2 separate regions of the Homo sapiens genome follow, and region 1 is linked to region 2. Evidence: fine-mapped expression QTL. A gene starts in region 2. The other region holds a variant in brackets. All regions are shown on one strand. Distances are between the middles of the regions.

What was found. PIP is the estimated chance that this variant, and not a neighbour inherited with it, causes the effect.
Region 1: its variant is fine-mapped to the expression of NR1H3 in whole blood (INTERVAL, PIP above 0.99).

What each region holds. Positions count from the first base shown.
Region 1 is chr11:47,218,775-47,234,280 of GRCh38, reverse strand. It overlaps DDB2 (damage specific DNA binding protein 2), which reads right to left. Exons shown (of 10, transcript NM_000107.3): 4 at 1,322-1,467. Among named protein-coding and RNA genes, the nearest start is that of DDB2, 12 kb to the right of the region's middle. The variant AAAAAAAAAAAAG/G (reference allele first, on the strand shown) is at 7,535.
Region 2 is chr11:47,251,691-47,267,196 of GRCh38, reverse strand. It overlaps NR1H3 (nuclear receptor subfamily 1 group H member 3), which reads right to left and starts at 9,201. Exons shown (of 10, transcript NM_005693.4): 1 at 9,068-9,201; 2 at 7,938-8,017; 3 at 7,218-7,406; 4 at 6,522-6,788; 5 at 5,748-5,956; 6 at 5,471-5,650; 7 at 5,179-5,278. The coding sequence starts at 7,980. RefSeq lists enhancers at 1,665-1,959, 7,193-7,761.

The DNA.
Region 1 (15,506 bases), 33 kb after region 2:
GAGGCACGCCTGCCCCCCACACCCCGGGTTCTGAGCAAGCCTCCTTTACTGCTCTCTCCTTTCACTCTTCACCCTTTAGGCCAAAGGAGACACAAGCCAAAGAGGGATTGCCTGGCCCTGTTCCTCAGAGCTGGCTAGAAAAGCACTTCTGCCCCCTTCTGAACACTGGGGGAAAAAACACAACCAGGAGCTCTTCTGGTCCCTCAAACCACTGGACTGGGAGGCTGACTAGGAGGGTGCTTCAGGGATCCTGCTATTCAGCCAGAAGAGCTCAGCTCACAGTTTTTCTCTCAAACTCTCAAATCCATGCTACACTGCCTTTTGCCATCCCCTATGAATATCTTCAAGCAGGAAGATTTCTTGCGGAAGAGTAGCCTGGAGCCTTGTCTATCCAATTGCCTGCTGATTTGCGTGCGCATGCACTCCTCATCCCTGCGGGACAGCCCAGGATCCAATCCAATGCTAGTTACACCCCAGCACCCTCACTTAATTCCTCAGGGAGCAGTCAGAGTCACGGCTCTAGCTGGAAATCAAAGTGACGAGTATTCTGTAATTTTTTTTTTTTTTTTTTGAGATAGATTTTCGCTCTTGTTGCCCAGGATGGAGTGCAATGGCGCCATCTCGGCTCACTGCAACCTCTGCCTCCTGGGTTCAAGCGATTCTCTTGCTTCAGCCTCCCAAGTAGCTGGGAATTACAGGGGCCTACCACCACGCCCAGCTAATTTTTTGTATTGTTAGTAGAGATGGGGGTTTCACCATGTTGGCCAGGCTGGTCTCGAACTCCTGACCTCAGGTGATCCACCCACCTTGGCCTCCCAAAGTGCTGGGATTTCAAGCATGAGCCACTGCACCCGGCCGCATTCTGTAATTTCTCCAGCCACTTTCTCTTGGGAAGTCCAGAGCACTTTATGGAAAAGATTCCATCCATATAAGCTTCCACCCAGGAACAGGTCAGGTCATTACACCACAGTGAGTGCAGGGCATTCAGTCTCAAGTTCTGAGCTGTTGCTCCATTCTCTAGGTGGCTTTCTGGGTCCACGCCATGCTGGCTTATCTAGTGAGGGTCAAGGTCCAGTCTAATACAGGTATGACTTACAGAAGAGCTGAGGCTCCAGAACACCTTCCCAAAGCAGTAACCCACCTGGACCAAAGTGAGGGCAGCCAAGGAGCAGTTTGAGAAAGAGAAAGAAGGGCGGAAAGTGGCTGACATCTTTCCTTTCTTCCCTGGGCCAGGTTGGGTTAAGGAAATGGGATCTGGATGCTCTTGCCGGAACTACACCTAAGCTTAGAAGCCCTTTCCCCTGCTAGTTAAACTACTCACTTGATGGTGTCTGAGCTGGCAAAAACTCGTAGAATGTTGCCTTTAAAGTCTTGCAGCCTAGTTGTTCCCTCCATTGAGGAGGCGTAAAACTGGTTGGTATTGAGAGGGTTAAACTTCAGCCCAGTGATGCTCCCTCCAGCTCCAATCTAACACGAGGAAGGAAAAAGCCAGTGAGTGATGATGGGCCTGGCCGTGAGGAACCAGGCCTGGGCACACATGCTGCGCCGTCACAGAAGCACCCCTCGAGCAGCGCTTGGGGCCAGGTCAGCTTAGACACTAGGACGCTCTCTACAGGGCCTTCACTTCTTTTTCTTTTCCTTTGAAATAGGGTCTTTCTCTGTCACTTAGGCTGAAGTGCAGTGGCACAAACACGGCTCACTGCAGCCTCAATCTCCTGGGCTCAAGCGATCCTCCCACCTCAGCCTCCCAAGTGCGTGCCACCATGCCCAGCTAATTTTTCTATTTTTTTTTTTTAAGATGGGGTTTTGTCACGTTGCCCAAGCTGGTCTTGAACTCCTAAGCTCAAGCGATCCCCCTGCCACGGCTTCCCAAAGTGCTAAGATTACAGGCATGAGCCGCTTTGTCTGGCCCCTTCATTTCTTTCTTTTTTTTATTTTTATTTTTATTTTTATGTTTTTGAGATGGAGTCCTGCTCTGTCACGACCTCGGCTCACTGCAACCTCTGCCTTCCAGGTTCAAGCGATTCTCCTGCCTCAGCCTCCCAAGCAGCTGGGATTACAGGTGCCCACCACCACGCATGGCTAAATTGTATATTTTTAGTAGAGACAGGGTTTCACCATGTTGGCCAGGCTGGTCTGGAACTCCTGCCCTCAGGTAATCCGCCACCCTTGGCCTCCCAAAGTGCTGGGATTACAGGCGTGAGCCACCGTGCCCCGCCTCCCTTCATTTCTTAAGGCTTTATTTTTACTTTTTTTTTTAATTAACATATAGCAAATTTGGGATATAAAGTTCTCTGAATTTTAACATATGTATAGACTTAAATAACCACCACCCAAATCAGGATGCAGAACATTTGCAACAGCCCAAAAACTCCATCGTGGTATCCCATTGTAATCACACCCTCCCCTCGCCCCCAGCCCCTGGCTGATCTGTTCTCCATCACTATTGTTTTGCCCTCATAGAATGTCCTATAGACCGAGCACAGTAATCCCAACACCTGGGGAGACTGAGGCGGGGGGATTGCTTGAGGCCAGGAGTTCAAGACCAGCCTAAGCAATATAGGGAGACCCCATCTCTACACACACAAAAAAAATTTAGACATGGTGGTAGGTGCATGTGGTTCTAGCTACTCAGAAGGCTGAGGTGGGAAGATGACGGAAGCCTGGAGGTCGAGGCTGCAGTGAGTTGCGATCGAATCACTGCACTCTAGCGTGGGTGACAGAGCAAGACCCTGTCTCTAAAAATAAAATAAAATAAAATTAAAAATAGAATGTCATGTAAATGAATTAGGCAGTATGCAACCTTTTGAGACTGTCTTGTTTCATTTCACTCATCATGCCTCTGAGATTCATCTGAGTTTGCTGTATCAAGAGCTCATCTCATTTTATTGCTGAGGTATTCCATTACATGGATGTGCCCTAATTTGTTATTCCCACAGTGCTCTCTTTAGAAGAGCTTCAGCTCAGAGCAGTGGCTGAGTTAGGAGGGCAGGAGTCAGATCTGTGCCCCTTCCTATTCTTCCAAACATTCATGAAAATGATGATGAAAATAATCATGAGAATATCAATGGCTTAACCTTATTAAGTGCTTACTATGTACTAGGCGCTGGTTTTTTGGGGGGATTTTCTTTGTGTGTTTTTTTTTTTTTTTTTTTTTTTTTGAGATGAAGGCTTGCTCTGTCGCCCAGGCTGAAGTGCGGTGGCACAACCTCAGCTCACTGCAGCCTCCACCTCCTGGATTCCAGTGATCCTCCTGCCTCAGCCTCCTGAGTAGCTGGGATTACATGCCCACACCATCACACCCAGCTAATTTTTGTATTTTTAGTAAAGACAGGTTTCACCATGTTGGTCAGGCTGGTCTCGAACTCCTGACCTCAGGTGATTGGCCTGCCTCGGCTTCCCAAAGTGCTGGGATTACAGGCGTGAGCCACTGCGCCCAGTCAGGCACTGTTTTAAGAACTTTACATCCCCAAGATGTAAAGTTCTCCACTTGTCCGCCTTTCTCCACCTTTTCCACTTCTTCTTTACGCTGCAGCTATCCCAGCCTCACAGACCTGTACAAGTTCTTCTATGCAACAACCACTTAGCTATCACAACATACTAACTGGCACATTCCCTTCCCTCTATAAAACATTCTAACCTCACGGTCATTCTAATGCTCATGGTCTGCCAAATGCTTGCTGGTAGTATGACAATCTTCGGCTCCCTCCAGTTGAGTTCTATGCTTACCAAACCAAGGGTTGGTTGTAGTTGTTCTCAAACCTGTTTATTCCAATTGTATCTTTTATTGCAATTAACACCAAATTTAATTAAGCATGTAAATTGATGAAATACATGCAAAAACAAAGGCCATTATTACTACTATAAAAGCCGTGTTGAAAGCTTTGGAAGAACTTGATAATGAGTTGCAAAAATAATAGCTATTGGCTGGGCACAGTAGCTCACATCTATAATCCCAGTATTTTGAGGGGCTGGGGCAGGAGAATCGCTTAAGGCCAGGAGTTCAAAACCTTGATGCAGTGGTGCAATCCTGGCTCAGCGTAGCCCCAACCTCCTGGGCTCAAGCAATCCTCCCGCCTCAGCCTCCCAAGTAGCTGGTGCTATAGGCTATAGGTGTGTGTCACCAATTTTTTTTTTTTTTTTTTTTTAGAGACAGGGTCTCACTATGTAACTCAGGCCAGTCTCAAATTCCTGGGCTCAAGCAATCCTTCCACCTCAACGTCCCAAAGTGCTGTTACAGGCATGACCCACTGGGTCCAGCCTCTATAAAAAATTATTAAAAATTAGCTGGGAGTGATGGTGCACACCTGTGCTCATAGCTATTCGAGAGGCTGAGGTGGGATGGTGACTTGAGCCCAGGAGTTCAAGGCTGTAGTTAGCTATGATCCTGCCACTGCATTCCAGCCTGGGTGGCAGAGCAAGACCCTGTCTCTATTAGGAAGAAGAAAAAAAAAAAAAAAAAGAAGAGCCATCAAATTAAGCATAGGGTGAGATACTTATAAAAGATTAAGGTAATAAAAATGTAAAAGGAATCTGCAATCAGATTGCTTCACAACTGTCTTACTTTGTATACTGAAAACCTTAAATTTGTATCAATGTCTTCAATTCAAAGTCAACACCACAGAGTTGATTCGAGTTTCTCTCTTTCCATGTTTATAATTCCCTTCTTTGACAGTGAAAAATGTGGTTCCCATTTTACTCAATATACTTACATATTTGATTAATCTCCTTGTATGTAACCAGTCTTCCACTATTGCTGCCACACACTCCCCAAATGCACGTCTTCCTTAGGATGCTTGGACTCTTTTACCCTCCCGAGGGCACAATCACCCTCTTCCCTCTCTCCACTCCCTCAACCATGCAGACACAACTTCCTTGCCCACATCAGGCGCCACGGCCGCCCCTCTCCATGCAAAAGCCCTGCTCACCCCACTTGACTCCGCCACCCCACTCTAGGCCTCCCTGTGGTTCAGCATCCTCAACCCCGCTTCAGACTTCACTATTCCATGCCCGGCCTCCTCTACTCTTCACCCCTGCCTACATGGATGCCCTTCTGATCTTGTTTGGGCCCAGTCTCTATGTACTGAGCTGCCACCTGCCACCTGTAATGACATTCACCTCAGCTTCAGGGGCCCCAGCATCTGGCACTTCCAGCACTGTAGCCTTCCCACTACGTAAACATCTATCTTGCTTGATCCTACCTAATGACTTTTGGTTTGAACTGTTCAGGAAGGGAAAAAGAAGATGAAGAAAGAGGAAGATAGATAGATAGATAGATAGATAGATAGATAGATAGATAGATATTTCTTTTTTTTTTTTTTTTTGAGATGGAGTCTCACTCTGTAGCCCAGGCTGGAGTGCAATGGTGCCATCTCAGGTCACTGCAACCTCCGCCTCCTGGGTTTAAACAATTCTCCAGCCTCAGCTTCCCAAGTACCTGGGATTACAGGCTCACGCCACCACGCTTAGCTAAGTTATGTATTTTTAGGAGAGATGGAGTTTCATCATGTTGGCCAGGCTGGTCTCGAACTCCTGACTTCAAGTGATCCGCCTGCCTCGGCCTCCCAACAGTCATGAGCCACCGGACCTGGCTGAGGAAGAGATATTGATCTTTCCTTCCTTTTTTTTTTTTTTTTTTGAGACAGAGTCCCATGCTGTTGCCCAGGCTGGAGTGCAGTGGCACAATCTTGGCTCACTGCAACCTCTGCCTCCTGGGTTCAAGCAATTCTCCTGCCTCAGCCTCCCGAGTAGCTGGGATTACAGGTACCTGCTACCATGCTTGGCGAATTTTTGTGTATTTTTAGTAGAGACAGGGTTTTGCCATGTTGGCCAGGCTGGTCTTGAACTCCTGACCTCAGGTGATCTGCCCACCTTGGCCACCCAAAGTGCTGAGATTACAGGAGTGAGCCACCGCACCCAGCCAGATATTGATCTTAAACCCTCCGTCTCCACAGACTAGAAAAAGAGGGAATAATTCCCAAGCTAAAGAGGGCAGCATAATTTTTTTTTTTTTTGAGACAGAGTTGTGCTCTGTCGCTCAGGCTGGACTGCAGTGGTGCACTCAGCTTACTACAACCTCTGCCTCCTGGGCTCAAGCAATTCACAGAAATCAGCATAATCTTTTTTTTTTTTTTTTTTTTTTGAGACAGAGCCTCACTCTGTTGCCAGGCTGGAGTGCAGTGGTACGATCTCACCTCACTGCAACCTCCACTTCCCAAGTTCAAACGATTCTCTTGCCTCAACCTCCCGGGTAGCTGGGATGACAGGAGTGCGCCACCACGCCCAGCTAATTTTTGCATATTTAGTAGAGACGGGGTTTCACCATGTTGGCCAGGATGGTCTCCATCTCCTGACCTCATAATCCGACCCCCTCGGCCTCCCAAAGTGCTGGAATTACAGGCGTGATCCACCACGCCTGGCCAGAAATCAGCATAATCTTGATACACAAATGTGACAAGGATTTGGCCAATTTTACACATGAACACAAATGCAAAGATCTTAAAATATTTGCCAGCTCAATCCAGTAATATTTAAAAACGATAAATATGTTATGGCCAGGATGAACTTATTCCAAGAATGCAAAGTTGGTTTAACTATTAAAAATCAATCGGGCCAGCTGGGCGTGGTGGTGGGTGCCAGCTTCTTGGGAGGCTGAGGCAGGAGAATTGCTTGAACCCGGGAGGTGGAGGTTGCAGTGAGCCAAGATTGCGCCATTGCACTCCAGCCTGGGTGACAAGAGTGAAACTCCATCTCAAAATTAAAAAAAAAAAAAAAATTCAGGCATCAAAAGAAACAATCGACAAAGTGAAAAGGCAATCTATGAAGTGGGAGAAGATATTTTCAAATCATAGATCTGATAAGAGGTTAATATCATGGCCGGGCGCAGTGTCTCACACCTATAATCCCAGCACTTTGGGAGGCCGAGGCGGGTAGATCACCTGAGGTCAGGAGTTCAAGACCAGCCTGGCCAACATGGTGAAACCCTGTCTCTACTAAAAGCACAAAAATTAGCCGGGCATGGTGGCGCATGCCTGTAATCCCAGCTACTCAGGAGGCTGAAGCAGGAGAATTGCTTGAACCCGGGAGGTGGAGACTGCAGTGAGCCGAGATTGAGCCATTACACTCCAGCCTGTACAACAGGAGCAAAACTCCATCTCAAAAAAAAAAAAAAAAAAAAAAAAGGTTAATATCCAGAATATATAAAGAACCCCTACAAAACAACAACAAATAACCCAACTAAAAAACAGGCAAACAGGAGTTCAAGACCAGCCTGGGAGACATAGCAAGATCCAATCTCTATAAAAAAAAATTTTTTTTTAACTTAGTAAGTCCTTTCTGTAAGAGACAGCGAAAAAAACAAAACAAAACAAAGTTAGCAAGGTATGATGGTGAGCACCTGCAGTCCCAGTTACTCGGGTGGCTAAGGCAGCAGGATCACTGGAGCCCAGAAGTTCGAGGCTGCAGTGAGCTATGATTGTGCCACTGTACTGCAGCCTGGGTGACCAAGTAAGACCCTGTTTCAAAAAAAAAAAAA[AAAAAAAAAAAAG/G]GCAAAGGACTTGAATAGACATTCCTTCAAAGAAAATATACAAATGGCCAAGAAGCACACGTAAAGATGCTCAATATCACTAATCATTAGAGAAATGCAAATGAAACTACACTGCTATCACCTCACATCCCTTAGGATGGCCACTATCAAAAAAACAGAAAAGGCCGAGCATGGTGGCTCACACTTGTAATCCCAGCAATTTGGGAGGCCAAGGCAAATGAATCACCTGAGGTCGGGAGTTCAAGACCAGCCTGGCCAACGTGGCAAAACCCGTCTCTACTGAAAATACAAAAATTAGCCGGGCATGGTGGTGTGCGCCTATAATCTCAGCTACTGGAGGCTGAGCCAGGAGAATCAGTTGAACTCAGGAGGCAGAGGTTGCAGTAAGCTGAGGCTGTGCCACTGCATTCCAGCCTGGGCGACAGAGGGAGACTTCATCTCAAAAAAAAAAAAAAAGAAAATAAATGTTGGTGGGGAAGTAGAGAAGTTGGGACATTTGTACACTGCTGATGGGAACATGAGATGGTATAGCCAGTATGGAAAACAATATAGCGGTTCCTCAAAAAATGAACAACAAAATTACCATTTGATGAAGCAATCGTACTTATTGGCATAAGCCCCAAAGAACTGAAATCGGGGTCTCAAAGGGATATTTGCACATCCACATTCACTGCAGCATTATTCACAATAGCCAAAAGATGAAATCAACCCAAGTGTCTGTCAATTAATAAACAGATAAACAAAAGGTGGTACACGCAAACAATGGAACATTATTCAGCCTTAAAAAAGGAAATTCTGCCACATGCTACAACATGGATGAATCTTAAAACACTGCATTAAGTGAAATAAGCCTGTCACAAAAAGACAAATACTGTATGATTCCACTTAGATGAGATATCTAAAGTAGTCAAACTCACAGAAACAGAAAGTAGTACTGTGGTTGCCAGGGGCTAAGGGGAGGGAGAAGTGGAGGCTTGTTCAGTGGGTATAGAGTTTCAGTTTTACAAGAAAAAAGTTCTAGTGATCTGTTGCACAACAATGTGAATATAGTTAACATTACTAAACTGTACACTTAAAAATAGTAAAGATTGTAAATTGTTTTACGTGTTTTCTACCAGTTTTTTGTTTTTTTTTTTTAAAATAGAGATGGAGTCTCGCTCTGTTGCCCAGGCTGGAGTGCAGTGGCATAATCTCGGGTCACTGCAACTTCTGCCTCCCGGGTTCAAGTGATTCTCCTGCCTCAGCCTCCCCAGTAGCTGGGATTACAGGCGCCCACGACCATGCCCAGCTAATTTTTTGTGTTTTTAGTAGAGACGGGGTTTCACCATGTTGGCCAGGATGGTCTCGATCTCCTGACCTTGTGATCCGTCCACCTCAGCTTCCCAAAGTGCTGGGATTACAGGCGTGAGCCACTGAGCCTGGCCCACAATTTTTTTTAAAAAAAGCAGTATTACTTGTTAGAGTTTTTTTTTTTTTTTTTAAAGACACAGGATCGGGCCAGGAGCAGTGTCTCAAGCCTGTAATCCCAGCACTTTGGGAGGCCAAGGTGGGTGGATAACTTGAGGTTAGGAGTCTGAGACCAGCCTGGCCAATATGGTGAAACTTGGTCTCTACTAAAAATACAAAAATTAGCTGGGCGTGGTGGTGCACACTTGTAATCCCAGCTACTCAGGAGGCTGAGGCAGAAGGGTCGCTTGAACCTGGGAGGTGGAGGTTGCAGTGAGCTGAGATCTCATGCCAGTGCACTCCAGCCTGGAAGAGAGAGTGAGACCTCATCTCAAAAAAGAAAGAAGAGGAAATAATAAATATGAGGAGAGAAATGGAAGACATGAAAAAAAATCCAAATTAAACTTCTAGAGGGGATATACAGTATCTGAAATGAAAAATACGCTGGGCTACTTTGCCTATGGAGCAGCCCTGCTCTGCACAGGCAAGAAAGAGAAGAGAAAAGGAAGAGGAAGAGAAGAGAGAGAAAGGAACGAAGGGAGGGAGGGAGGGAGGGATTGACAGCAGAAGGTTAGATATTACAGAAGTAAAGATCAGTGAACAACTGCACAAAATGAAACAGGGAAAAAGACAAAAATGAACAGTGCATCAACCACCTGCAGGACCATATGTAATCGCAGTCCCAAGAAAAAAAGAACTGTTCTTTTTCTTCATTTTGAACTCTTTGTAAGAAATAATGGGCTGGGCAAGGTGGCTCACGCCTGTAATCCCAGCACTTCAGGAGGCCAAGGTGGGCGGATCACTGGAGGTCAGGAGTTCAAGACCAGCCTGGCCAACATGGTGAAACCCTGTCTCTACTAAAAAAATAAAATAAAAATAAATAAATACAAAAATTAGCCAGGTGAGGTGGTGGGCACCTGTAATCCCAGCTACTCGGGAGGCTGAGGCAGGGAGAATCGCTTGAACCCTGGAGGTGGAGGTTGCAGTGAGCCGAGATTGTGGCACTGCACACCAGCCTGGGCGACAGAGTGAGACTTTGTCTCAAAAGAAAAAAAAAATCCATAAATCAAAGAAGCTTAGTGATCCCCCCACAAGCACATCATAATCATTTTTAAAGCGACCAGAAGAAAAATTACATAGACAGGAACATAAGGATAGTAGCAGACTTCTCATCAGGATGTTTTGTTTTGTTTTGTTTTTAATTGAGACAGGATCTTGCTCTGTCACCCAGGCTTGCCTAGCTCACTGAAGCCTTGTCCCCCTGGGCTTAAGCAATTCTCCCACCTCAGCCTCCTGAACAGCTGGAACTACAAGTTCAAGCCACTAGCTAATTTTTAAGATTTTTTTGTAGAGATGGGGTCTTGCTGTGTTTCCTAGGCTGGTCTTAAAGTCCTGGCCTCAAGAGGTCCCCCAGCCTCAGCCTCTCAAAGTGTTGAGATTACAGGCATGAACCATTGAGCCCAACTAGAAATCATCTTTATTTTTATTCTTTATTTATTTATTTATTTTAGACGGAGTCTTGCTCTGTCACCCAGGCTGGAGTGAAGTGGCCGATCTCGGCTCACTGCCAGCTCTGCCTCCTGGGTTCACACCATTCTCCTGCCTCAGCCTCCCAAGTAGCTGGGACTACAGGCGCCCACCACCACGCCTGGCTAATTTTTTTTGTATTTTTAGAACAGACAGGGTTTCACCGTGTTAGCCAGGGTGGTCTCAATCTCTTGATCTCGTGATCCGCCTGCCTCGGCCTCCCAAAGCGCTGGGATTACAGGTGTCAGCCACCGCGCCCAGCCTTATTTATTTATTTTTGAGACACAGTCTTGCTCTGTCACCCAGAATGGAGTGCAGTGACACCATCTCGGCTCACTGCAACCTCTGCCTCCCAGGTTCAAGATTCTCATGCCTCAGCCTCCCGGGTAGCTGGGATTACTGGTGAGCGCCACCACACCCAGCTAATTTTTGTATTTTTAGTAGAGGCGGGGTTTCACCATGTTAGCCAGGCTGGTCTAAAACTCATGATCGCAAATGATCCACTTGCCTTGGCCCCCCAAAATGCTGGGATTACAGGCGTAAGCCACAGCGCCCAGCCTAGACATCATCTTTAAAGTACTGACAGGAGAAAACTGTGAACAAATATATTGTATGCAATAAAATACAATTTTAATTTACCAATTAAAAAATAAAAGTTAAATAATTTTAAAAACTGTGAACCTAGAATTCTATACTTAGCAAAAACATCCTCCCTCAAAATAAAGGCAAAATACTTTTCTAGATAAACAACAGTGGAAAGTATTTATCACCAATCTGCATTATAAGAAATATGAAAGGAATTTCTTCAGGCAGAAAGAAAATATTACCAAAAGGAAATCTGGATCACATGAAAGAATGAAAGCACTGGAAATGACAATATGTGGGCAAATAGAAAAACCTTTTCTCATTTAAAAAGTATCTTTAAAACATTCCTACTCTATAATCCAGCCATTCCACTGCTAAGTATTTACCCAAGAAAAATGAAAACATATATCCACACAAATACTTGTACGTGAATGTTCACAGTCGCTTTATATGTTGCATTCAAAAACTAGAAAAAAATTCAAATGTCCTTGAACAGGTAAATGAATAAACTGTATCATATCAGTACAATGTGGCTGGGTGCAGGGGCTCACGCCTATAATCCCGGCACTTTGGGAGGCTAAGGCAGGAGGATAGCTTGAGGCCAGGAGTTTGAAACCAGCCTGTGCAACACAGTGAGACCTCTGTCTCTATAACAAAATTTTAAAATTAGCCAGGTATGGTGGCCTGTGCATGTAGTGCCAGCTACTCAGGAGGCTGAGGTGGGAGAATCGCTTGAGCTGAGGAGGTTGAGGCTATGCTGAACCATGATCATCCCTGGGTGACACAGCAAGACCCTGTCTTAAAACAAAAAACAATGAACCATTATTCAGAAAGAAAAAAAAAACTACACATAAAAATGTAGATAAATTTCAAATAATTATACTGAAACAAGCTAGAACAAAAATAAAAGACCATATATTCTATGATTCTATTTATATATAGTTCTAGAAAATGTAAATTAATTTCTAAAAATAAAAAATAGATCAGCAGTTTACAGTGAATAAGATATTGGGTAGAGAGGGGTGGATTACAAAGGGGCATAGATAACTCATCTATCTATCACTCTCCAAATATTCAACAAAGGGTGGGGAAATGGGAGTTATTTTAATTGTGGTGATGGCTTCACAGTTGTACACATATGTCAAAACTCATGGAATTGTACAATTTATTCTTTTTTTCTTACTGCTTCTCTGGAGTAGGACTACCCCATAGGCTGAGAATAGCCAAATTGTACACTTGAAATAGCTGCAGTTTATGTCCACTATACCTCAATAAAGATATAATTTTAAAAACCCAGGCCGGGTGCAGTGGCTCGTGCCTGTAATCCCAGCATTTTGGGAGGCCGAGGCGGGCGGATCACTTGAGGTCAGGAGTTCGAGACCAGCCTGGCCAATATGGTGAAACCCTGTTTCTACCAAAAATATAAAATTCAGGCTGGGCACGGTGGCTCACACCTGTAATGCCAGCACTTTGGGAGGCCAAGGCAGGTGGATCACCTTAGGCCAGGAGTTCAAGACGAGCCTGGCCAACACGGTGAAACCCCGTCTCTACTAAAAATACAAAAATTAGCTGGGCATGGTGGTAGGCTCCTGTAATCCCAGCTACTCAGGAGGCTGAGGCAGGAGAATCATTTCAACTCAGGAGGCAGAGGTTGCAGTGGGCCGAGATCGTGCTACTGCACTCCAGCCTGGGCAATAGAGTGAAACTCTGTCTTAAAAAAACAAAACAAAACAAAAATTAGCTGGTGTGGTGGTGCATGCCTGTAATCCCAGCTACTCGGGAGGCTGAGGAAGGAGAATAGCTTGAACCCAGGAGGCGGAGGTTGCAGTGAGGTGAGATCGCACCACTGCACTCCAGCCTGAGCGACAGAGCAAGACTCAGACTTGGAAAAAAAAAAAAATAGTGTACACATGCACAGAGGGATGCTGAAAATGGGGATTTTGGATCATATTTAATTTATTTTTTACACTTTTCTCTGTATTTTATGATAAGAATACACTGTTTTGTTTTTTGAGAGATGGAGTCTCACTGTGTCGCCCAGGCTGGAGTGCAGTGGCACCATCTCAGCTCACTGCAACCTCCACCTCCCAGGTTCAAGTGATTCTCCTGCCTCAGATTCCTGAGTAGCTGGAACTACAGACGTGCACCACTACTCCCGGCTAATTTTTGTATTTTTAGTAGAGACAGGGTTTCACTATGTGTTGGTCAGGCTGGTCTCGGAACTCCTGACCTCAGGTGATCCACCCGCCTCGGCCTCCCAAAGTGCTGGGATTACAGGCGTGGGCCACTGCGCCTGGCCCCATACATTGTTTTTATAATAGGAATAAAATTAAGCTATCTTCATTGTGAAACTGTAATACATGTTCCCTTGCCAAGGGCCTGAAGAATGTAAAGGTCACAGCCAAGGTCAGATGACTAAAGAAGTGACAAAATGAGGCACTGTTGCTCCTCCAGTAACTGGTCTCAAATCAGCATTCTGCTGTCAGCATCTGGGAGTAAAACCAGACAGGTCTCTTCCAGACTGCCATACCCTTCCTCTGCTCCAACCTAGCTCCCTGCAAATGCAAGCCACAAAATTCAATGCCTAGACCAATCTTCATTACAGTGTAAAGAAAGTTTACACTGTAAAGAAGGTTACACGCATGTCATAAGGTGATGCAACAAAGAAAAAAAGCAATCTCAGTCTGGCACAAGTTCAAAGCACTTGTCATTATCCTGTTAGTCAGGAAGCTCTTCCCCTAGAATACCCTACACTGCTTCTTCCCATCTCCAGGCATAAGCTAAATTCCTCTATTCCCATGTCCTAGACTCCTGGAGAAAACAAGAAAACAAATTTCTTCCTGTCTGAGCTCTGGGTTCTGACTTCAACTTCAAGCTGCCTTATTAGCGGTCACCTGCCTCTTTAGCTGGGCAGGAAACCTACCCCACTCTGTCCGCGGCACTCCTCTGACTGCCTTTCTGGGGGCTTCTGGCACTTGTTCCTTGAACACCCATCTCACACTTTGAATTCCAGTCTCCCACACCTGTCTAACCTGGCCTTTTCTGGTGGTCTGCTCTCCAAATCCCTCCACTTAAGAGACCTCCTGCTGGCTGGGTGCAGTGGCTCACGCCTGTAATCCCAGCACTTTGGGAGGTCGAGGCGGGCGGATCACGAGGTCAGGAGATCGAGACCATCATGGCTAACACGGTGAAACCCCATCTCCACTAAAAAATATAAAAAAAGTAGCCGGGTGTGGTGGCGGGCACCAGTAGTCCCAGCTACTTCGGAGGCTGAGGCAGGAGAATCGCGTGAACCTGGGAGGCGGAGCTTGCAGTGAGCCGAGATTGCGCCACTGCACTCCAGCCTGGGCGGCGGAGTGAGACTCCATCTCAAAAAAATAAACAAATAAATAAATAAAGAGACCTCCTCCTGGGTTCCCCCTCATGTCTACCTTTAAACCAGAGCTAGAAAAATAGTGGACTGAAGCAGAATTCGGCTGAGACGTGTGTTTAGTTTCATTCAGTGCCAATATTAAGACGTTCTAGAGGCCCAGCACAGTGGCTCAGCCCTGTAATCCCGAGCAATTTGGGAAGACAAGACAGAAGGATTGCTTGAGGCCAGTAGTTTGAGACCAGCCTGGGCAATATAGAGAGACCACATCTCTAAAAATTAGCCAGGCATGGTGGTGCGTACCTGTAGTCCCTGATACATGGGAGGCTGAAGCCGGAGGATTCCTTGAGTCAGGAAGGTGGAGGCTGCAGTGAGCTATGGTTGTGTCACTGCACTCCAGCCTGGGTGACAGAATGAGACTCAAAAAATAAAAATAAAAAAAAATAATGAAGTTCTGGAGACTGCTTACACAATTTACCCAACGCCATTGAACTGTGCACTTTAAAATGGTTACGAAAGTAAATTTCATGTTATATGTATTTTATCATTATTTTTTAAAAAGTTGGCTGGGGGCGGTGGCTCACGCCTGTAATCCCAGCACTTTGGGAGGCCGAGGCAGGCAGATCACAAGGTCAGGAGATAGAGACCATCGTGGCTAACACGGTGAAACCCCATCTCTACTAAAAATACAAAAATTAGCCAGGCGTGGCAGCATGCACCTGCAGTCCCAGCTGCTGGGGAGGCTGAGGCAGGAGAATGGCATGAATCCGGGAGGCGGAGCTTGCAGTGAGCCAAGATTGCGCCACTGCACTCCAGCCTGGGTGACAGAGCGAGAGTCCGCCTCAAAAAAAAAACACTTTTAAATGGTTAAGGTGATACATTTTATGTTACGTGTATTTTACAATTTTTTTTAAAACTCAAGATATATGACATTTAAAAAATGAGGATTTGTGTCTTTGTTTGAGAAAAATCACATCTGATATCAAAAGACCTACATTTTTGCACAACAGTCATCTCTAGTTTACCCCTGAC
Region 2 (15,506 bases):
TAGCTGGGACTACAGGTGCATACCATCACAAGTAGCTAATTCTTATATTTTCAGTTGTGACAGGATTTCACCATGTTGCCCAGGCTGGTCTCGAACTCCTGGACTCAAGCAATCCACCCGCCTCGCCCTCCCAAAGTGCTGGGATTACAGGCACCAGACACCATCACCTGCCAATTCTGTCATTAAAATTCTTGAGGGCTCCACATTTCTAGAAATAGAGGCAACTCTTATTTTTGTTTATCAAGAATCGTTTTTCAGCAAGGCACGGCGGTTCATGCCTGTAATCCCAGTATTTTGGGAGGCCGAGGCAGGGGGATCACCTGAGTTCAGGAGTTTGAGACCAGCCTGGCCGACATGGCAAAACCCTGTCTCACTGAAAATACAAAAATTAGCTGGGCGTGGTGGTGCACTCCTGTAATTCCAGCTACTTAGGAGGCTGAGGCAGGAGAATTGCTTGAATCTGGGAGGCGGAGGTTGCAGTAAGCCGAGATCACGCCACTGCACTCCAGCCTGGATGACAGAGCGAAACTCCATCTCAAAAAAAAAAAAAGAAAAAGAAAAAAGGCTGGATGCGGTGGCTTATCCCTATAATCCCAGCACTTTAGGAGGCCGAGGCAGACGGATTGCCTGAGCTCAAGAGTTTGAGACCAGCCTGGGCAACACAGTGAAACCCGGTCTCTACTAAAAATACAAAAATTAACTGGGCATGGTGGCGCACCTGTAGTCCCAGCTACTCGGGAGGCTGAGCAGGCGAATTGCTTGAACCTGGGAGGTGGAGGTTGCAGTGAGCCGAGATTGTTCTACTTGCACTCCAGCCTGGGCGACAGAGCAAGATTCTGGCTCAAAAAAAAAAAAAATCCTTTTTCAGCAGGGCACGGTGGTTCACACCTGTAGTCCCAGCTACTCAAGGAGGATCACTTGAGCCCAGAAGGTCGAGGCTGCATTGAGCCATGATTGATCACACCACTGCATTCAGCCTGGGCGACAGAGCGAGACCCTGTTTCAAAGAAAAAAAAAAGACTTGTTTTTCACTGGCATTGGCCTTACTTATTTGAACACTAGAGATACATTTCATGTATCACATCCTCGAGGGAATATTGCAGTATGGGTGAGGATGTGGATTTTGGTGCCAGACTGCCTCGGGTTGAGTCCTGCCTCTACCACTTACAAGGCAGTGTGACCTTGTGTAAGTTATTTAACCTCTCTGGGCTTTGGTTTTCCCATCTGTAAAATGGGAATAATAATAGTACCTATCTCATAAATATGTGGCATATATGGTAACTACCACATAAGTGTTTGTAAAATAAATAAAAAAATTTTTTTTGAGACAAAGAGTCTTGCTCTGTTGCCAGACTAGAGTGCAGTTGCATGATCTCGGCTCACTGCAAGCTCTGCCTCCCAGGTTCAAGCAATTCTCCTGCCTCAGCCTCTTGAGTAGCTGGGACTACTGGTGCATGTCACCACGCCCAGCTAATTTTTGTATTTTTAGTAGAGACAGGATTTCACCATGTTGGCCAGGATGGTCTCGATCTCTTGACCTCGTGATCTGCCTGCCTCGGCCTCCCAAAGTACTGGGATTACAGGCATGAGCCACCGCGCCTGGTCAATAAATAATACATTTTTCTTGGAAACAGTCTTCCTGCTGAGAAGACTAAAATGCAACAAAACATGAGCTAAAGTAATGATACCTAGAGAATGTCTCTCATACACATTGTCAAAGTCTCTGCACCCTACAGAGTTCCCCAGGCTTTGTCAGATTTCTTTTAGCAACCATCTGCTACACTTTTCCATTCAAGGCTTCTTGGTGAGTCACTTCCTGTACTTTCACCCTGATGTTTATCAAGTGTTGTGTGTTGGTCCATTTAATGGGCAGGCCCCATTTTCTTTTTCTTTTTTCTTTTTTTGAGATGGAGTCTTGCTCTGTCACCCAGGCTGGAGTGCAGTGGCGCGATCTCAGCTCACTGCAACCTCAGCCTTCTGGTTCAAGCAATTCTCCTGCCTCAGCCTCCTGAGTAGCTGGGACCACAGGTGTGCACCACCACGCCCAGCTAATTTTTGTATTTTCAGTAGAGATGGGGTTTTGCCATATGGGCCAGGCTGGTCTCGAACTCCTGACCTCAGGTGATCCGCCTGCCTCGGCCTCCCAAAGTGCTGGGATTTCAGGTGTAAGCCACCACGCCCGGCGGCAAGCCCCATTTTCTAAAGCATTTCTTGGTGAGGTTTTGAGCCCCAAAGTGTGGCAAACAGCCCCCTTTATAGAGAAATTAAGAGGAGGTTCTATAGTTAGCTAATGCACCTCTGAGGGTCTGCTGATGCCCACGGAATGAACACCTCAAATGTGCTCAGTCCATGTCACCAGTTATCTACTGCATGCAGTAAATAGTAGCGGATAGGGAGGGGAGGAGACTTGACAAGCAGAGCTCCTGTTCCTTCTCCCCAAGACCTCACTCATGAAATAAGAAATGCAAGCATGATTACTTCAAAACTGCTTGTATAAATAAATCTATGAATAGGTGCAGATTCAGATAGCATGAGTCTACAAGTGCCAAAGGAATACAAAGATCTTAGAACTGGGCAGGGTTCCACAAGGAGGATATTCTGAAGGAGGGGAGAGCCACGGTTAAGAAGGTCTGAGATAATAACCATCGAGGAAAAAGTGGTTTGGAAGAGGGGAGCAGGGCTGGGCTTTAAAGCTGGATAAAGTCATTAAATCACCCCATTAGGTGTCAATACATCCAGGCAGCACACCGGTTACTATAGAAGGCAAAAGGTGCCAACATAGCCCTGTTATGCCCTACAGCGAAGAGTGGCCTTCCTAGAAAGCTCACTGGGTGGACTGCGTTGGGAGAGCAAGAGGCACGTGAGCTGGCCTGAGTTATCAGAAACCAAGGAAGGCTTGATGACTGGCCTGGCCACAGATCTACCAGCCCTGAGAGTGGAGTCAGGGCATCAGCCATATTTTACAGCCCCACTCATCCAGTCGTTAAGCTACTTGGTTTCCTGCTGAAGCTCAATTCCAGTCCCTCCAAAACTCCCTCAGCCTCCCGTCCTTTCCCAGGCCAGTTCTCATGATACAAACATTATCAATAGTTGAATATGAAGAAACCCCTTCTGCGTAGCTCCCAAGCGAGCATCAGATAGAGAGCCGCAGAATGAACTAATTTTTGGAGAAAATACTTCAGATATAGGATGGAGATGGAAGCATTCGCTCTTATTGTACATCCTCTCTGGGCATGTTTGCCATGCCATGGTTCTGGTTCGTCAGAAAGTGCAATTGAAAAAGAGTAGGGGAGGGGCCTGGACAAGTGGCTCATGGCTGTAATCCCAGGACTTTGGGAGGCCAAGGCGGGCGGATTGCCTGAGCTCAGGAGTTCAAGACCAGCCTGGGCAAAACAGTGAAACCCCATCTCTACTAAAAATACAAAAGTTAGCTGAGCGTAGTGGCGCGCGCCTGTAGTCCCAGCTACTCAGGAGGCTGAGGCAGGGGAATCGTTTGAATCCGGGAGGCAGAAGTTGCAGTGAGCCAAGATCGCGTCACTGCACTCCAGCCTGGCAACAGAGTGAGAATCCATCTCAAAAAAAAAAAAAAAGAAAAGAAAAAAAAAGAAAAAGAGTAGGGGAGGCTGTGTGTGGTGGCTCATGCCTGTAATCCCAGCACATTGGGAGGCCGAGGTGGGTGGATCACTTGAGCTCAGGAGTTCGAGACCATTTTGAGACCAGCCTGGGCAACATGGCGAAACCCACTCTCTACAAAAAAATATAAAAATTAGCCTGGCATGGTGGTGCATGCCTGTAGTCCCACCTACTTGGGGGCTGAGGCAGGAGGATTACTGGAGCCCAGGTGGTTGAGGCTGCAGTGAGCCACGTTCATGCCACTGCACTTCAGCCTGCGTGACAGAGCAAGAACTTATCTCAAAAAAAAAAAAAAAGTAGGGGAAATCAGCCCCCATGATCCCCAAAGAGCACATGTGAGGAAGATTTGTTCACTTTTTGACTACTAAAAAGTTGAGTGCACTGAGTTTCAAACTTTTTTTTCAAGCTGTAAAATCTGCAAGCAAAATACTATGTAGCAGTGCAATATATAATGCAGATTTAAATGGAGCTTCTTGTTTGGCTAAAGTAAAGATGAAGGACATTCCTGTGCCTCCCTGTTTCTCCTCCAAGGTGCCATTCCATATATCTCTCAGGTTCCTTGGAATACAGTTTGAAAACCACTGACCTAAAGCAACAGAGGACAGGGGTCTATCTGGAGCAGCTGAGAGAAGCCTATCAGCATTCCAATTTTCTATCTTCAAAAAACAAGGGAGCCTTCCCTTACCAGCCACCCAAACATTGGGCCTGTGGCTCTGTAGTCACTATGGGCCTCTGACAAAAAGCACCAGTCCTGGCCAGGTTCAGTGGCTCATGCCTGTAATCCCAGCATTTTGGGAGGCTGAGGCACATGGATCACTTAAGGTCAGGAGTTCAAGACCAGCCTGGTCAACATGGTAAAACCCTGTCTCTACTAAAAGTACAAAAATTAGCTGGGCATGGTGGTGCACCTAATCCCAGCTACTTGAGAAGCTGAAGCAGGAGAATTGCTTGAACCCGGGAGGCGGAGGTTGTAGTGAGCCAAGATCACGCCACTGCACTCCTGCTTGGGTGACAGAGCAAACTCTGTCTAAAAAAAAAAATGAAACAAAAAAAAAGTACTTGGCCGGGCATGGTGGGTGGCTCACGCCTGTAATCCCAGCACTTTGGGAGTCAGAGGCAGGAGGATCACTTGAGGCCAGGAGTTTGGGACCAACCTGGGCAACATAGTAAGACTCTATCTCAATTTTTGTTGTTGTTGTTGTTGTTGCCCAGGCTGGAGTGCAGTGGTGCGATCTTGGCTCACTACAACCTCTGCCTCCCAGATTCAAGTGATTCTCCTGCCTCGATCTCCCAAGTAGCTGGGGCTACAGGCGCGTGCCACCATGCCTGACTAATTTTTTGTATTTTCAGTAGAGACAGGGTTTCACCGTGTTAGCCAGAATGGTCTTGATCTACTGACCTGGTGATCTGCCCACCTCGGCCTCCCAAAGTGCTGGGATTACAGGCATGAGCCACCGCGCCTGGCCCTCAATTTTTAAAAATAAAAAATAAAAAAAGAAGCATCTGTCCACCCAACCCCAATCCCTGTGTGATCTCAGTTCTCACCTGCTTTGGCAAAGTCTTCCCGGTTATAACTGAAATCCTTGAGGAAGGTGATACTCTCACTCCCAGGGTTGTACCTCCGAGATGTCTCCAGAAGCATCACCTGCACACAAGCAGCAAACCTCAAACGGGGACTAGGAGGGCTGGTCTTGGAGCATGGCCTCTTCCAGGGAGGCCGATTCTCCTCATCCCTGCTTCCCAGCAGATTTGGCTCTCCCAGCTCGATGTCTGGAGGCCCCTCCCACAGATAATCCCACTCTGCTTCTCCCTTCATCCCTTGCCCTTCTCCAGCCACCTCGATCGCAGAGGTCTTCAGCAGGGCAATCTGGTCCTCCCGGCTGAGCTGCAGGAAGCCGGGTAGCTGTTTAGCAAAGTCAACTATCTCCTGCACAGAGACGATGGCCAGCTCAGTGAAGTGGGCAAAGCGCTGCTGACGGGCCTCCCGGCTATGGGGATCTGGTGCCATGGGCCAAGGCTACCCAGGAGGGAAAAGGCAAAGCGCTTTGAGTCGGACATCAAGAAGCCCACTGGTGATCTGGGCGCAGCCGCCTCTCCCCAGGTGTGTCAAGTACCGTGACTCGAAGCCGGTCAGAAAAGGAGCGCCGGTTACACTGTTGCTGGGCAGCGACGAGCTTCTCGATCATGCCCAGTTGTTCCGGGCTGAGCTGGGGCAGGATTTGGGGGGGTGAGGAAGCCCTGGGGGGCAAGGATGTGGCATGAGCCTGTTCCTCCTCTTGCCGCTTCAGTTTCTTCAGGCGGATCTGTTCTTCTGACAGGACACCTAAGGACAGGGCCAAATATGAGGAAGGGAGCAGATGGGGAAAGGATGGGGCAAGGGGGTGGGGGAAAGACAGGAGGGAAGGATGGGGCAAAGGGGGTGGTTTGGGGCTCCAGAAAAGCAGACAGCACTGGGTAAAGGCAAGAAGATTTTTTTTTTTTGAAACAGAGTCTCACACTTGCTCAGGCTGGAGTGCAGTGGCATGATCTTGGCACACTGCAACCTCCACCTCCCGTGTTCAAGTGATTCTCCTGCCTCAGTCTCTTGAGTAGCTGGGATTACAGGCGCTCACCACCACACCCGGCTAATTTTTGTATTTTTAGTAGAGTCGGGGTTTCACTATGTTGGCCAGGCTGGTCTCGGACTTCTGATCTCAGGTGATCCACCCGCTTCGGCCTCCCAAAGTGCTGGGATTACAGGCATGAGCCACCGCGCCCGGTCAAGAAAGATACTGGGATCCATACTTAGGGATCAGTTAGCCCCTGCAAGTTCAGGCACCTGTTTTGGGTCACACCCTGGCCCCCTCTTTCCCCTCAGCCTCTTCCCCACTCCAGCCCCAGAAACTCACACTCCTCCCGCATGCCAGCCTGACGGCATTTGCGAAGCCGACACTCCTGGCACTTGCGACGCATGTAGGTGTCCATGGGGCAGTGGCCGCCACTGTGGCAGATGTAGTGCGCTCCCTTGATGACGCTGCGGCGGAAGAATCCCTTGCAGCCCTCGCAGCTCAGAACATTGTAGTGGAAGCCCGAGGCCTTGTCCCCACACACGCTGCATAGCTCGTTCCCCAGCATTTTGGGGGCTGGCCCCTTTTTCCGCTTTTGTGGACGGATCTCTGGATACAGGAAAGTGCTTCAACGCTCTCCCCCGAGGAAAAACATCATGTTCTCCCTGACTCAGCCACTGCCCTGGGCACTCAGTGACCTTCATTCCCTTCATTATACAAACTCCAGTCTCTCTTTTATGAGAAGAGTAGCCCTCATTTGCCAAGTGCCATTATGTTCTAGGTACTGTATGAGCCTTTTATATGCACTGATCCTTATGACAACCATAATTTTTATTTCCATTTTATAAACAAGGAAAGTGAGGCTCAGAAAGGCCTAGAGACAAAATTCACACTTAGATCAGTCAGATTTAGTTAGCTCTAAAGCCTCTGAACTTAACCATGAGATTATATATAAAGTAAAAACCCCCAAGGAACCTCTTCCAGATCCAGGACCTGGAATCTGGACCCCTACCTCCTCCAAACCCAGAAGCTCCTCACCTGTGGGTTCTGAAGGGGGCTCTGCCCTGGTGAGCAGGGCTGTGGGCTCTGCAGCCTCCAGCCCCACCCCTGCAGTACCCCCAGCAGAGTGGGGCATCCTGGCTTCCTCTCTGAGGATGCAGCTGCTGCCTCCCTGGGCCTGGCTGCTTGCATCCTGTGCGCCTGGCTTCCACAGCTCCACCGCAGAGTCTGAGCTCCAAAAGAGAGGCACAAGGGGGTCTCAGGCCCCATCCCGGCTCCACGGCCCAGCGTCCTAGCTGGGAAACTGCAAACTTATCCCCACCCTTAGAGGGCAGCAAAGTCCCAGCTCAGGCTTTGGGACCCTAGAGTCTGTGTGGGCTCTAGCTAGGACTAGTCACTTGTAGTTTCTTACATCTCAGGACCTTAAATGAAGATGTTAATCCTTGTCCCTTTGGGGGGCTGGAGTGTATGCATTTCAGAGATCAGATAAAACTCTTCAAAGCCAGAGCAGGGTAAGCACTCAGCTGGCCAACTCTCTAGCAGCAAATCCAGACTGGGGAGGACTGGGCGGGTGCCTGCAAGGGCCAGGCACTGGAACCAGGGGAGAGGTGATCTGGGCGGGAGGCAAGCACGACTAAGAATGACTCTGGACTGCTCTCTGGAGGAAGGAAGAAGGCAGGTAATGAAGGAGGCTGATTCCTACAGGAGGCGTGGAGCCTGCGGTCTGGGCTCAGGGGAGAGGGATGGAATGAAGCTTACCAGGAGGAATGTCAGGCACAGGGGCCCCCAGCCACAAGGACATCTCTTCCTGGAGCCCTGGTCATTACCAAGGCACTGTCCTGCAGGAAGGACCCAGATTATACTCTTCTAGAACTGGGCTCCTTTCTGGCCTCAGCTCCCTTCTCCACCTGATCCTCCCTTTTATCAATATCAACAATATCAGCTAACATTTACTTGCCATATATTAGCCTGTACTAAGGCTTTATTATATTACTATTATGTTTTTTAGAGACAGGTTCTCCCTATTTTGCCCAGGCTAGTCTAGGAATTCCTGGGCTCAAGTGATCCTCTCACCTGGGCCTCCCAAAGTGTGGGGATTATTGGAGTAAGCCACTGCGCCCAGCCTGTTATAAGGCTTTATGTGCTTTCCTCATAATATCCCTCTGAGGTCAAAACTATTAATTTTTTTTTTGAGATGGGGTCTCTCTATGTTGCCCAGGCTGGAACTCAGTGCTATTCACAGGTGCAATAATAGGACACTATCGCCTCAAACTACTGGGCTGAAGCAATCAGGTTTCAGCTTCCTGAGTATCTGAGATTATGGGCGCACGCTACTGCTCCTGGCTCAGGACTATTCTTAAACTCATTTTACAGATAAGCAAACTGAGGTTCAAAGAGATTAAGTAACTATGGTCACACAGTTAGGCGGCGGTAGAGTCAAGACTCCAACCCTCCTCTGACTCCAAAGTCTGGGCTCCCAGCCACCGTGCCGGCTTTTCTCCCCCAAAGTCCCCTCCAGGCCAGCAGGGAATGTTTGGGTGCATCTGCCCTGCTTCTCTTGGGCCCCTTCCCCCTCACTCCAACACTGAGGACAGCTCACTCCACCCAGTGAAACACGCTGCTTATTAGAGAACCTCGCTCGTGCCACTTTCCAGGGTCCCAGCACAAACCTGTCTCCAAGAATCTCCCCAATTCACATAGAGGACCTCCTCCCCTGAGCCCCTCATGAGTTATTCTGGGACCCAGAGTCCTGCTCCTGTCCCAAGCTTCCATCACCATCACCCCTCACTTCTCCCCAGAAACCCCCTTCTCAGATCCTTAGGACATTCCCCGACCCCACCCCAGATACACACACAGAGCCCCAGGCCACTGCTAAGGAGCAGACCCACCAAATCCCCAGGCCACCAGACTTCCTGGGTGGGCAGTCTCTGGAGCCCCCTTGCTGGGAGAAGAGGATGGTGCAGTTTCCTGTCCAGAAGTCTCGGTGGCCAGCCAGTGAGCTGGAGCTGAGCACAAGCAGGACCTGGAGCCCCAGAGAAGTAGCAATTTGGGGAAAGGCTGAGGGGAGGGACTGCCGAGGGGTCAGGCCACCCCTCCTTCCTGCCTGGTGACCACAGCCCTCCCCTCCTCACCCCCGCCCACAGGGCAGCTTCTCCACCAGGCTGGCTCCTCCCCAGCCGGCCACCCCCTCTCCCGCCACTCCCGCCCCCTACTCCCGGCCAAAACAGTGGCATTTCCCTGCAGACCAGCCAAGTTCCATGTCTCTCCCCTTCCTCTCCTTACCCAGCGCTCTTAGCAGCTCTTGCAAAAGGACTGCCTCCCAGGAACCCCCACCCCAATCCCAGCAGCCTCCAGAATCGTGTTCCCTCCCCTCCATAGGCACCTCGTGGAGCAAAGGTCCCAGCACGGCCCGGAATTGCGACACTGAGCCCCAGCGGCTTTCCCAGCCTCCCTCCTCCTCCCTTGCCTCTGGGAAGAGGCCAAGAAGCTCTCCCCACTAGCCCCAGGCCTCAGCCAAGCTGGTAGAAATCCAGGGGTGGAGAGAGGCAGGTGCTGGGCCTTCCAGGGAGTTTCTGAAAGTGGGTGCCCTGCGGGGGCCACAGATAAGAGAGGAGGCCAGGAGAGCCTTTGATAGGAAATCTGCTATGAGCAGTGGCAGGCCTGGGATAGGGGTGGAGGTGGCAGAAGGAAGACAGGCAACTCAGGTGGCAGCCCAGGATGGACCTGGGAAGGTATGCGGGTTGCCTCTTCTGGGGAACAACCCCATCTGAAGTGATGGCAGGCTCCAACCAGCAGCTACTGAGACTATAGTCATTCTTCCTACTCTGCTGCCTGGGGCATGAAATCCATCCCTGAAAGTAGACATCATATTTTATTGATTTCATCTCCCCCAACACCCCTGAAACAGGGCTGGCATAGATGTGGCAACAGAGTAGGTACTGTGTTCCTATTTGTTGAATGAATAACAAGAAAAATATAATATATTCTCGGCCGGGCGCGGTGGCTCACGCCTGTAATCCCAGCACTTTGGGAGGCCGAGGCAGGCGGATCACGAGGTCAGGAGATCGAGACCATCCTGGCTAACACGGTGAAACCCCGTCTCTCCTAAAAATACAAAAAATTAGCCGGGCATGGTGGCAGGCGCCTGTAGTTCCAGCTACTCGGGAGGCTGAGACAGAAGAATGGCGTGAACCCGGGAGGCAGAGCTTGCAGTGAGCCGAGATTGCGCCACTGCACTCCTGCCTGAGTGACAGAGCGAGACTCTGTCCCCAAAAAAAAAAAAAAAAGAAATATTATTCTCGTCTATCCCGTACTTATTAGCCCTAGTCAATTTTTTTTATTATTCCTTTTTTTTTTTTTTTTTACCTTTTTTGGGGTAGGGTCTCACTATGTTGCCCAGGCTGGCTTCACACTCCTGGGCTCAAGCCATCCTCCCACCTCAGCCTTCCAAAGTGCTAGGATTACAGGCACACGCCATCACAACTGCTGTAGTCAATTTCAACTCAGCATGTTGATTTAGCGTTCAGACTCTGGGCTCAGATTTTGGGTTCAAATCCTAAACCTCTTATTACCTATGTGATCTTGATTGAGCAAGTTACTTAACGTCTCTGAATCTTTGTTTCCCTATCTTTAAAATAAGAATAGTTGAGCCAGCAATGGTGTGTTGAAAAATAAATAGAACGGGCACGGTGGCTCACGCCTGTAATCCCAGCACTTTGGGAGGCCTAGGCGGGTGGATCACTTGAGGTCAGGAGTTCGAGACCAGCCTGGCCAACATGGTGAAACCCCGTCTCTACTAAAAATACAAAAGTTAGCCAGGCATAGTGATGCGGGTCTGTAATCCCAGCTACTCGGGAGGCTGAGGGAGGAGAATCACTTGAATCTGGGAGGTTGCAGTGAGCCGAGATTGTGCCACCACACTCCAGCCTGGGTGACAGACTGAGACTCCATCTCAAAATAAAAAAAAGAAAAAGAAAGAAAGATAAATAAAATAGGGATAATAGTAATTTTTACCACACAAGGTTGTTGTGGGATTGAAACTACAGATCATGCAGGGTGCGGTGGCTCATGCCTGTAATCCCAGCAGTTTGGGAGGCCAAGGCAGATGGATCACTTGAGGTCAGGAGTTCCAGACCAGCCTGGCCAACATGGTGAAACCCCATCACTACTAAAAATACAAAAAATTAGCCGGGTGTGATGATGCATTCCTGTAATCCCAGCTACTCAGGAGGCTGAGGCAGGAGAATCACTTGAACCTGGCAGGCAGAAGTTGCAATGACCCGAGATCGCGCCATTGCCCTCCAGCCCGGGCAACAACAGCAAAACTCCAAAAAAAAAGAAGAAAGAAAGAGAGAGAGAGAGAGAAAGAGAAAGAAAGAAAGAAAGAAAGAAAGAAAGAAAGAGAGAGAGAGAGAGAGAGAGAAAGAAAGAAAGAAAGAAAGAAAGAAAGAAAGAAAGAAAGAAAGAAAGAAAGAAAAAGAAAGAAAGAAAGAGAGTCTATCACAACGTGTGGCACATAGTGTTTGAGAAATGGCACGAGTTATCATCACCCTCCCAGTTCTTTCAGCTGTAGGTCTTCCCATTGCTTTAACTTGGTGGATTTTGAACTTTGTACTTGTTTCCATACACAGCACAAACCCTTCACTATCTTTTCTGGTCCTTAGAGCAGCGCTGGGAGGAAAGGAGGGTAAGTAACCCGAGCTCCATTTGACAGAGAACACTGAAACTCATGTGAGGGCCTTTTCCAAGACCACACAGTTAGTGGCTGGGCTGGGATCAGAACCCAGATGTCCTCACTCCAGTCCCTTTGCTGTGTCAGAGTCCAGGACAATCTTGTCTTGTTGCGTCTTGGGCCAGTGAAGTGCTGTAATGGAAGCAGCCAGGGCTGGTGGGCTACAGGGGAGAGGCTGAGAACCCTGCAGATGCTCCAGTCCAGATGTGGGAGGCAAGCTGCTGAGGTTACTGCTGGTCATTCACCCCCTGCCCCATTCCCAGTTTCCTGCTCACCGGCTCTTCCTGTTTTGCTATGAACTCCAGTTCCCATGGGCCCCACATTAAAGCATAGAAGGACGGGGGCCAGGGCAAGCAGCCAAAGAGACCGAAACAGATGAACAGGGCACCAGGGAAGAGAACACAGGAAACAGGGAAAGAGTGGACAGGGGGTGTAGATGGGACAGAAGGAACCAGATGAGAAAAAGATGAAGGCTGAGGCAGAAGAGCAGCCTGGTGAAAGATGAGAGGAAGCACAGGGTGGGAGAGGGGGAACAGGCCGGGGCTGGGGAGCAGAGTGTGAGAAGACAGCAGGCTGGGTGCTGTTGCAAAATCTGCCCATGTATTCATTTTCACATTTCAGAAAAGCCCCTGTGACACCCCCATCTCAGACTTCTGCCTCCAGCTTTTGCTTTTGTTCCCCCTCATCACAAGGTCGTCCCCTCCCAAGGCCCCCACCCTGGTCTGGGTATCTCTGAGTCACAAGCACAAGGCTCTCCATTCCTCTCGCCTGTGTTCCCTCTCTGATTTTCACAAGGCCCCAGCTGTCCTGGAAAAGCAGAAACCAGGGACTCTAGTCACTGAGAGACTGGCACTATTCTGTCCCAGCACCCACATCACCAGTCCAGCTCCCTCCTCTACCTCCCTGCTCCCAGAAGCTCCAGCCCAGCAGGGCAGCCAGAGATGTCACAGAGATGGCTGGTTTCAAGAAACTCAGGACTCAATGGTCTGGGGCCTGGTGCCCTATCTTCTGGGAGCTGGGAGAAGCCTCTTTCATCCACTTTGTTCTTCAACTCCCTCCCCTGACACCTAGTCTCCCCACAGGTGGCTTCCCAGGACCCAGGACCACATACGAGCCCCATCTTGTGGGAGTGGGGGTGGGCAGGCTAGGGTCTCCTGTTTAGGAGGAATTATAACCAGGACTTCAACTGCCAGAGCCGTCCTATCAGGTTACAGCTCAGAAACCCCAACCCTCATCCCTACAAAGAGGGAAAAGGAGAGGAAAATGGGAGAAGACCAAAACCTGTGGGCAGTATTTCCATGGAGTTTCTGGAGACCAACCACTGAGACTTACTTCAAGCCAGGGCAAGCAGTGAAGTGATCAGCAGCTGGAATCATGTTCCCACTTTGGCAGCCCCACCCCCGTGCCACAGTCCCACCAGCCCACAGTTGTTAGGTCCAAAGTCCCCCAGTCCTATGGGCCTCTTCTGTGTTTCCTTGGCTCCTGCAGGAGGCAATGTCTCTGGGAACACACTCGGGGATCTACCAAGTCACATATCTGGCCCCCCAGAACCTCCACAGGTTTCTTCTCACAGCAAGGAGAAACTTGAAGCAGAAACAGGAGCATTCACCAGCCATGGTCACAGGTAGTACTGGCTAACTGCCCTGAAAGTACTCATTCCCATGAAGCAGGCCACAGGGTAAGGTCTGCAGGGATGGACCAGGAGAACTGCTTCTTGTTCCCTCCTTCACCGTTCTGGAAGGGTGGAAAGTGCAGGGATCATCTTGCAGACCACTGCGTATCTACTCAAGTGACTTCTGCCCAACCTTCCAATCACAACATAGAGAATAATCCAGAAACCTGGATTCCCAGACCTGAGTTCAGAGATGATACAGAAGGCAGAAAGGAAAGATGTGACATTTATTTCATCCCTACTACATACATTTATCTTTACATGCATTATTTCATTTATTCTCACAGTAAACTCTAGGAGATAGTTACTAGCAAGGGGCAAATATCAAATTTGAATACAGGTATAAGACTGGGTGTGGTGGCTCACACTTGTAATCCTAGCACTTTGGGAGGCCAAGAAGGGCAGATCGCTTGAGTCCAGGAGTTTGAGACTAGCCTAGGCAACATGGCGAAACCTCACCTTTACAGAAAACACACACACGCACAAAAATTAGCCAGGCGTGGTGGCATCTGCCTGTAGTCCCAGCCACTTGGGGGGCTGAGGTAGGAGGACTGTTGGAGCCCAGGAGGTCGAGGCTGCAGTGAGCCATGATTGCACCACTGCACTCCAGCCTGGGTGACAGAGGGAGACTGTCTCAAAAAAAAAAAAAAAAAAAGAATACAAGTTTAGCTGATTCAAAAGTTTGAGCTCAAGCTCAAACAAACAAAAATCACAAATACACTCCATTATATAAAACTGCCGGCTGGGGCCGGGCGCAGTAGCTCATGCCTGTAATCCCAGCACTTTGGGAGGCCGAGTGGGTGGATCACTAGGTCAGGCTAACACGGCGAAACCCTGTCTCTACTAAAAATACAAAAAAAAAAAGCCAAAAAAATTAGCCAGGTGTGGTGGCAGGTGCCTGTAGTCCCAGCTACTCGAGAGGCTGAGGCAGGAGAATGGCGTGAACCTGGGAGGTGAAGCTTGCAGTGAGCCGAGACTGTGCCACTGCACTCCAGCCTGGGCGACAGTGGGAGACTCTGTCACAAAAACAAAACAAAACAAACAAAAAAAACAGCCGGGTGGGTGCGGTGGCTCACACCTGTAATCCCAGCACTTTGGGAGGCCAAAATGGGCAGATCACCTGAGGTCGGGAGTTCGAGACCAGCCTGACCAACATGGAGAAGCTGTCTCTACTAAAAATACAAAATTAGCCAGGCGTGGTGGCACATGCCTGTAATCCCAGCTACTCGGGAGGCTGAGGCAGGAGAATCGCTTGAACCCGGGAGGCGGAGGTTGCTGTGAGCCGAGATAACGCCATTGCACTCCAGCCTGGGCAACAAGAGCAAAACTCCATCTCAAAAACAACAACAACAACAACAACAACAACAAAACAAAACAAAAACTGCCTCTTCAGATGGAAAAAAAATGGCTAACATACCTGGATTTAGGTTTGCTTCTGCCAACACAGAATATGGTAGTGGTTCCTGTCCTCACCTTCAGAGATTCTGATTTATTTGATCTGGGATAGGCCCACATATCCATCTATCTACATGTGTTTTTTTTTTTTCTTTTTTTTTTTTGCACCTGTAGTTACGAACCAAAGTGTAAGAACCACAGAATCATCTGGCAGAAAATGCAAAAGCTGAAGGCAAAGGGGTGAAGAAACTAGGGCTCAGCTTCAGGCTCTACTATCTACTTGCGCTGTAATCCCCACCCTTCCTGGAATAGTTTCTCCCTATAAAAACTGAAATAGTATCTGCTTCATCAATCCCTCCTACGTGGGATACTTGCATGCACAAAGAATATAGACATATTTGAGCAAGTGGGAAGAAAAGCAAAAGCTGAATTTGAGAGATAGCTGAAATTTGGTGAGCCAAAGATTTACACTCTGAAAGTACAATGGTCTGGCTAGTTTGCAAGGAGTAAGAGGCCCATTAAAACAAAA